Linked DNA regions of Homo sapiens. The protein of the gene in region 2 interacts with the protein of the main gene of each other region in a pairwise test. Each region holds a gene or a part of one and is shown on either strand. Other genes may lie near its edges.

What was found.
Region 1: the proteins of GOLM1 (region 2) and HGFAC interact in binary tests that used the Homo sapiens proteins (3 or more experiments, as listed by UniProt).

What each region holds. Positions count from the first base shown.
Region 1 is NC_000004.12:3,444,844-3,447,712, reverse strand, and holds part of HGFAC (hepatocyte growth factor activator serine protease isoform 2 preproprotein), read right to left. Parts: coding exon 2,720-2,869; intron 2,449-2,719; coding exon 2,363-2,448; intron 1,838-2,362; coding exon of another isoform or gene 1,817-1,837; intron 1,672-1,816; coding exon 1,419-1,671; intron 222-1,418; coding exon 82-221; intron 1-81. UniProt on the Homo sapiens protein: Serine protease that hydrolyzes the inactive zymogen hepatocyte growth factor (HGFsc) to an activated disulfide-linked heterodimer, then initiating hepatocyte growth factor receptor signaling pathway.
Region 2 is NC_000009.12:86,089,518-86,093,377, reverse strand, and holds part of GOLM1 (Golgi membrane protein 1), read left to right. Parts: intron 1-3,860.

The DNA of each region.
Region 1 (2,869 bases), on a different chromosome or scaffold from region 2:
GCTCCTGCCCCTGTCTGGGCCTGGCCTGGGGAGCACAGGGCCCACCTGCCCAGAGTGCAGCCACGACACGCCGGAGCTCACCGAGGTCGTGGTCGCTGGGGTTGAACACCGAGTACAGGGTGTACGGGATGTACTTCTCGATGCCGAAGGTCTGCGTCACGTCCGTCGTGCGGTTGAAGAAGTGCTGGCCCAGCACCACGGAGACGCTGTCCCTGGGGGGGCTGTGCAAGGGGGGCTGGAGGCTGCATGGACCAGCCCTCCCCCAGCCACCGGGCTCACCTCTCCCCACCCCCTGTCAGGCCCACGGAGGCCAATGGTGTGGGACCCTGGTCCCGGGGAGGGGTCTGAGCAGGTGCCTGGGTGTGGGCTGTTGATACTGGGGAGACAGGGACCACCAAGCAGGGGCTATTGCCAGTCACCCCCAGATCCAGGCATGGGAGCTGAAGTGCGGTGCCATCCCTCCTGACAACACTGGTCACAAGCCCTGGGGGGAGTCTCAGGCCAAGCCCAGGCAGGATCGGCTGCAAGGCCGACCCGAGTGGGTGGAGACCTGGCCTGCTCAGGCCCTGCCCCAGCTTCCATCCACATTGTGGGGTCCCCAGATGCAGCCCTCACTCCTGCTGGGCACAGAGCCTGGGCCCCTGAGCCTGGCTCCCATCTGCTGTGTGGAGGTCGCTCCACCCTGCCTCGGCCTCCTGCCCTGGGCTCCATGTGGGGAACCCCATTTCTCCACACTGAGGAAGGCTCTGGCCCCATTTGCAGGCCCAGGAGCCGCCGGCTGCAGGTTCTGCAGGGCCACGCAGGACCCCACCCTGGGAGCTGTGGTCCTCGAAAGGCCGCCAGACCCTCGGCTGGCCGGACCCCTGCCCCTAATCACTGGGGTGCCCATCGAAGGTGGAAGGGCGTCTGGCCCAGGCTGCTCCGTCTCAGGGTCTCCCCACTCGAGGCCCGCCTCCCAGAGTGTGGGCCTGGGTGGCTGTGCGCCCCCACTGAGGGGAGCCGGCTGAGTGGGCTGGGCCTCAGTTTCCCTGGCTGTGCTTGGGCTCCTAGGGCTCTGACGCATTGTCACTGCGCTCCCTGGCTCCCTACTGAGAGCCAGGACTCTGGGAGGGGCGGGGCCTGCGGGGAGGACAGGACCTGGCCCACTGCACTCTCCGCAGGCGCTGGGTCCTCTGTGGAAATGCCACTGACCCCTGGCCTCCCTCAATAGGGACAGGGTTTCTGGAGTGTCCATGCATGCCCAGCTCAGGACTGAGCCCCAAGACCCAGAGGGGTCAGAGAGGGTTACCGGGGACCCCGGGAAGGGGTCAGCAGAGGCACCGGGATGGGGTCCGCAAGCGGGTGGGGACAGGCGCATAGTGACGCTGGATGGTGTGTGGGGCCTCAGGGCAGGTGACTGGGGCCCAGAGGAGGTGCACCTGTGGGAGAAGCAGTGGGCGGCCGACACCACCCAGCAGGTGTGGACCAGGCTCCCGGCGCAGAAGCTGTCCCCGATGTAGATGGCGGCCAGCCAGGGGTGCGAGCCGGGCAGCGAGGAGGAGCCGCCGATGATACGTGGCCGCAGGAACGTCCTCTTCTTGTGCCTCCTGCCGCAGGCCTGGCGCCCCGGGGAGGCTGGCTCAGGCAGGGTCGCCAGGAGATCCGGTGACAGTTGGACTCTGGTGAGGGATTCTGGGAGCAAAGGTCACCGGGTCACACCCCTGGGGTTCACAGGGCCAGCCCCCTTCCACACACAGGCCCTACCCGGCAGGAGGCGCTGCAGAGGGCCATGGCCGGACCCCCTGTCCACGCTGCTCAGGCCCTGGCGCCCACTCACCTCTGCCCTCAGTTTCCAAATCTGTAGAATGGGGTTTGATGCCCGATCCCGAGGCTCTGTGAGGGCCAGAGGGGCTGGACACACGGAGGCCTTTGTGGCCCCCTCAGCAGCCCGGAACCCCACAGCCAGCCCCAGCACAGTCAGAGACCCCCACATGAGAGCCCCGGGCTGGCCCCGCCGGGGTCCTAGGGAGCCGGGGGGCCTCTCCCCAGGGCAGGAAGCAGGTGGCCTCTGGGGGGCCTGCACGCTGCCCTCCCTGCACCTCCCTGAAAGGCTTCTGCGGCCATCCTGGGCATGGTCCAGGCTGGGCAGGTGCCACCCCGAGGCCGTCGCCTGGTGACCAGCCCCCTGCAGCGGGCTGCTTCCCCACTGTGACCCCAGTACCGACCCACTGCGTGACCTTGGACCAGCCTGATCCCGTGAGCTCCAGTTTCCCCATTTGTCAGAGATGCAGTAGCCAGGTGTGCGGAGGGGCTAGGAGGATCACGGGGAAAACTGCTGTGACCTCGGTGGGGCCCAAGGCAGCACCCCCCGCCAGCCGCGCACCGCAGGCCTCCAGGCGGCAGTACTCCCAGGAGAGCGCGCTGTCCTTCACCACGTAGCACCAGGGCCTCTCGTCATTGTCCGGATTCCTGCGGTGCATAAGTGGGGGCTGGCAGGGAGTCACACTGCCCCTCGAAGAGGGCATGGGGAGGGGGCATCGGAACCCCCAGCAGGGCGGTTCCCCGCACCTGGAGCAGTGGGAAGAGAGTGGCCCTCCCTCGGGCAGCCTCCCAGGCAGAGGTTCCGGGGCCTGTCTGGACGGAGCTGGCCCCGCCTGGGTCCTAGGGAGCCGGGGGGCCTCTCCCCAGGACAAATCCTGCCTGCCCCGCATGCGGCGGCCTGGAGCGGCGTGGTGCTGACCGGCAGTAGGCATGGGGGCCCAGGCCCAGCAGGGCCGCGGCGCCCACGGAGTCCACGTGCAGCTCCTGGTAGAGCAGATCGGAGTTCCAGGCCAGGCAGCTGAGGCCCGAGGCTGAGGTGCTGGCCACGCCACGGTACCCAGTGCCGTTC
Region 2 (3,860 bases):
TTGAGGCAGAATCTCGCTCTGTCACTCAGGCTAGAGTGAGTGGCGCAATCTTGGCTCACAGCAACCTCTGCCTCCCAAGTTCAAGCGATTCTCCTGCCTCAGCCTCCCAAGTAGCTGGGATTACAGGCACACACCACCATGCCCAGCTAATTGTATTTTTAGTAGAGACAGGGTTTTGATATGTTGGCCAGGCTGGCCTCAAATTCCTGACCTCAGGTGATCGTCTGCCTTGGCCTCCCAAAGTGCTGGGATTATACACATGAGCCACTGTGTACACCCAGCCTATCAAGTGATTTTTAATGTGAAAACACACCACTTGTTTTAATTTTGGGAAAGCCTGGAGCCTCACAGAGTTTAGCTGATTTAAGTTAATCATTTTCAGTATGTTGGAAGCTTATAACCAAGTATGAGACAAACATATTCTGAAGCTTAAATGAAAATGAATATTAAATTAATACCTCTGTTTGATGCAGTATATCACTCACCCACTTCCATCTCATCCGCAATCCAAATAAATTCTAAGGTGGGAGAAGGGAGAGTGTCTGATGTATTTGACCACCATAAACTCTGCCTGTGAGTTCCTGCCACCAGCCTTCATCAGTCTTGATCATTTCTCGCCAGTGTGTGTCCCTTATCCTTCAGCAGCAAGGGTTTCTACAGTCCTGGAAGCCTGTGAGGAGGCACCTTGCAGGCCTGAAGCCTCATTGTGTTACTTCCTTTCCTTGTGTCACTATTTACCTGGGCAGCCCTGCTCCCATTGGGAGCCCAGGGCTCTCCTAAGAGTGCTGTCTAGACAGCTGCTCACCTTCCTGGCCAGCCAAGCACTGGGTGACAGTGAGGGGCTTCCAGGATTGTATGACTTCCAGGACTGTTTGAGGCTTGGCTTCCTCAAACCTTTTTCATAATATGATCCTGGTCTGGGATGTCCACGGCCTCAGTGGCAACTGTAGGTCAGCCCCAGGTAATGGCAGGTACTGCTATTTTAGTTGGTGGCAGAGTCAGGAGAAGGAAAGAGGAGGACTGGTTGCTATAAAGTAGAATGGTTATGGAAGGAAAACATGCATCACTGTTTCCTCATAAAATGGAAAAAAGATTGAATCTAGAAATGATTTGTTGTTCATCTTTCCATCCCTAATAGTTGTCAACATTTGTTGAGCAATTACTATGTGCCAAATGTAGCTCTAAGCGCTTCTCACTCAACTCACTGAATCCTCTTAAAAACCTTGTGAGCAGGACAGTGATGCACAGACAGGTCCTGTGTCCCCTGAGTGGTAGAGCAAGGGTCAGACATGGTTGTGGGGTTCCAGTCTTGGAGTTCCTGAGTGGTGGAGCCAGTGTCAGACATGGCTGTGAGGCTCCAGTCTGTGGGGTTCCTGAGTGGTGGAGCCAGGATTCAGATATGGCAATGGGATTCCAGTCTGTGCTCTTAATACCACCCTGAGCTGCCTGATGTGAATACAGCACCTGACTCATGGTAGCTGCTCAATAAATTTTTTATTGGCTGTTTAAAGAAAAGAGAATATTAAATGGTTATCTGTACACTTCCCTTGAAGTGAGAATGGAGTTTATTTTCTGCTTTCAAATTTATAATATACCCCACCCACTGACTTACCTCTACTAGAATAACAAAAGGCCTTGCAAGGGTCACATCTAAAAGTATTTTGTCAAGCCATGTGCGGCAGCATGTGCCTACTCGGAGACTGAGGTGTGAGGATTGCTTAGGTCCAGGAGTTCAAGGCTGCAGTGAGCCATGATTGTACCACTGCACTCCAGCCTGGGCGACAAGATTCCATCTCTTTAAGAAAAAGTATATTGTTAGAAAATTTAGTATATAACAAAGATAGTTGTTCAAAGCAGTAGGTAAAAATAGATTATTCAGTAGAGGGCCCTGGCAGAACTGGCTTGTCACTACAGGAAAAAAAAAAGCTGCATTCTTTGTATTTCCTTACTTCTGCATTCTTTGTATTTCCTTACTCCTTACATCAAAAAGGAGTTTTAAATGGATGAACAATTTAAATGTAAATATGAAACTGTACATTGGAAAAAAATGTGGGTAAGTTGTTTATAAACTTAGAATAGGAAATGCCCTTCTAAATATAACAACAATCGAGAAGTAATAAAGGATTGACAAGATTAGGTTATTTAAAACAACAACAGAGTGGCTGGTAAGATGGCCAAATAGCAACAGCTCTGGTCCGCAGCTCCCAGCGAGATCAACACAGAAGACAGGTGATTTCTGCATTTCCAACTGAGGTACCTGGCTCATCTCACTGGGACTGGTTAGACGGTGGATGCAGCCCACAGAGGGTGAGCAGAAGCAGGGTGGGGCATCGCCTCATCTAGGAAGTGCAAGGGGTTGGGGAACTCCTCCCCTAGCCAAGGGAAACTATGAGGGACTGTGCCATGAGGGACAGTGCACTCTGGCCCAGATACTACGCTTTTCCCATGCTCTTCGCAACCCACAGACCAGGAGATACCCTCAGGTGCCTACACCACCAGGGCCCTGGGTTTCAAGCACAAAACTGGGCGGCCATTTGGGCAGACACTGAGCTAGCTGCAGGAGTTTTTTTTTTTTTTTTTTTTTTTTTTTTGGTACCCCAGTGGCACTTGGAACGCCAGCGAGACAGAACTGTTCACTCCCCTGGAAAGGAGGCTGAAGCCAGGGAGCCAAGTGGTCTAACTCATTGGATTCCACCCCAATGGAGCCCAGCAAGCTAAGAAACACTGGCTTGAAATTCTTGCTGCCAGCACAGCAGTCTGAAGTTGCCCCGGGATGCTCGAGCTTGGTAGAGGGGAGGGGCATCCGCCATTGCTGAGGCTGGAGTAGGTGGTTTTCCTCTCACAGTGTAAAGAAAGCTGCCAGTTCGAACTGGGTAGAGCCCACTGCAGCTCGGCAAAGCCACTGTGGCCAGACTGCCTCTCTAGATTCCTCCTCTCTGAGCAGGGCATCTCTGAAAGAAAGGCAGCAGCCCCAGTCTTACAGATAAAACTCCCAGCTCCCTGGGACAGAGCACCTGGGGGAAGGGGTAGCTGTGGGCACAGCTTCAGCAGACTTAAATGTTCCTGCCTGCCAGCTCTGAAGAGAGCAGCAGATCTCCCAGCATAACACTCAAAGTCTGCTAGGGGACAGACTGCCTCTTCAAGTGGGTCCCTGACCCCTGTGCCTCCTGACTGGAAGACACCTCCTAGCAGGGGTTGACAGCTCACCTCATACAGGAGAGCTCCGGCTGGCATCTAGTGGGTGCCCCTCTGCGACAAAGCTTCCAGAGGAAGGAACAGGCAGCAATCTTTGCTTTTCTGATGCCTCCACTGGTGATACCCAGGCAGTGTCTGGAGTGGACCTCCAGCAAACTCCAGCAGACCTGCAGCAGAGGGGCCTGACAGTGAGAAGGGAAACTAACAGAAAGGAATAGCATCAACAAAAAGGACATCCACACAGAAACCCCATCTGAAGTTCACCAATATCAAAGACCAAAGGTAGATACATCCACAAAGATGAGGAAAAACCTGCACAAAAAGGCTGAAAATTCCAAAAACCAGAATGCCTCTTCTCCTCCAAAGGATCACACCTCCTCGCCAGCAAGGGAACAAAACTGGACAGAGAATGAGTTTGATGAACTGACAGAAGTAGGCTTCAGAAGGTGGGTAATAAACTCCTCCGAGCTAAAGGAGCATGTTCTAACCCAATGCAAGGAAGCTAAGAACCTTGAAAAAAGTTTAGAGGAATTGCTAACTAGAATAACCAGTTTAGAGAAGAACATAAATGACCTGATGGAGCTGAAAAACACAGCACGAGAACTTCGTGAAGCATATGCAAGTATCAATAGCCAAATCGGTCAAGCGGAAGAAAGGATATCAGA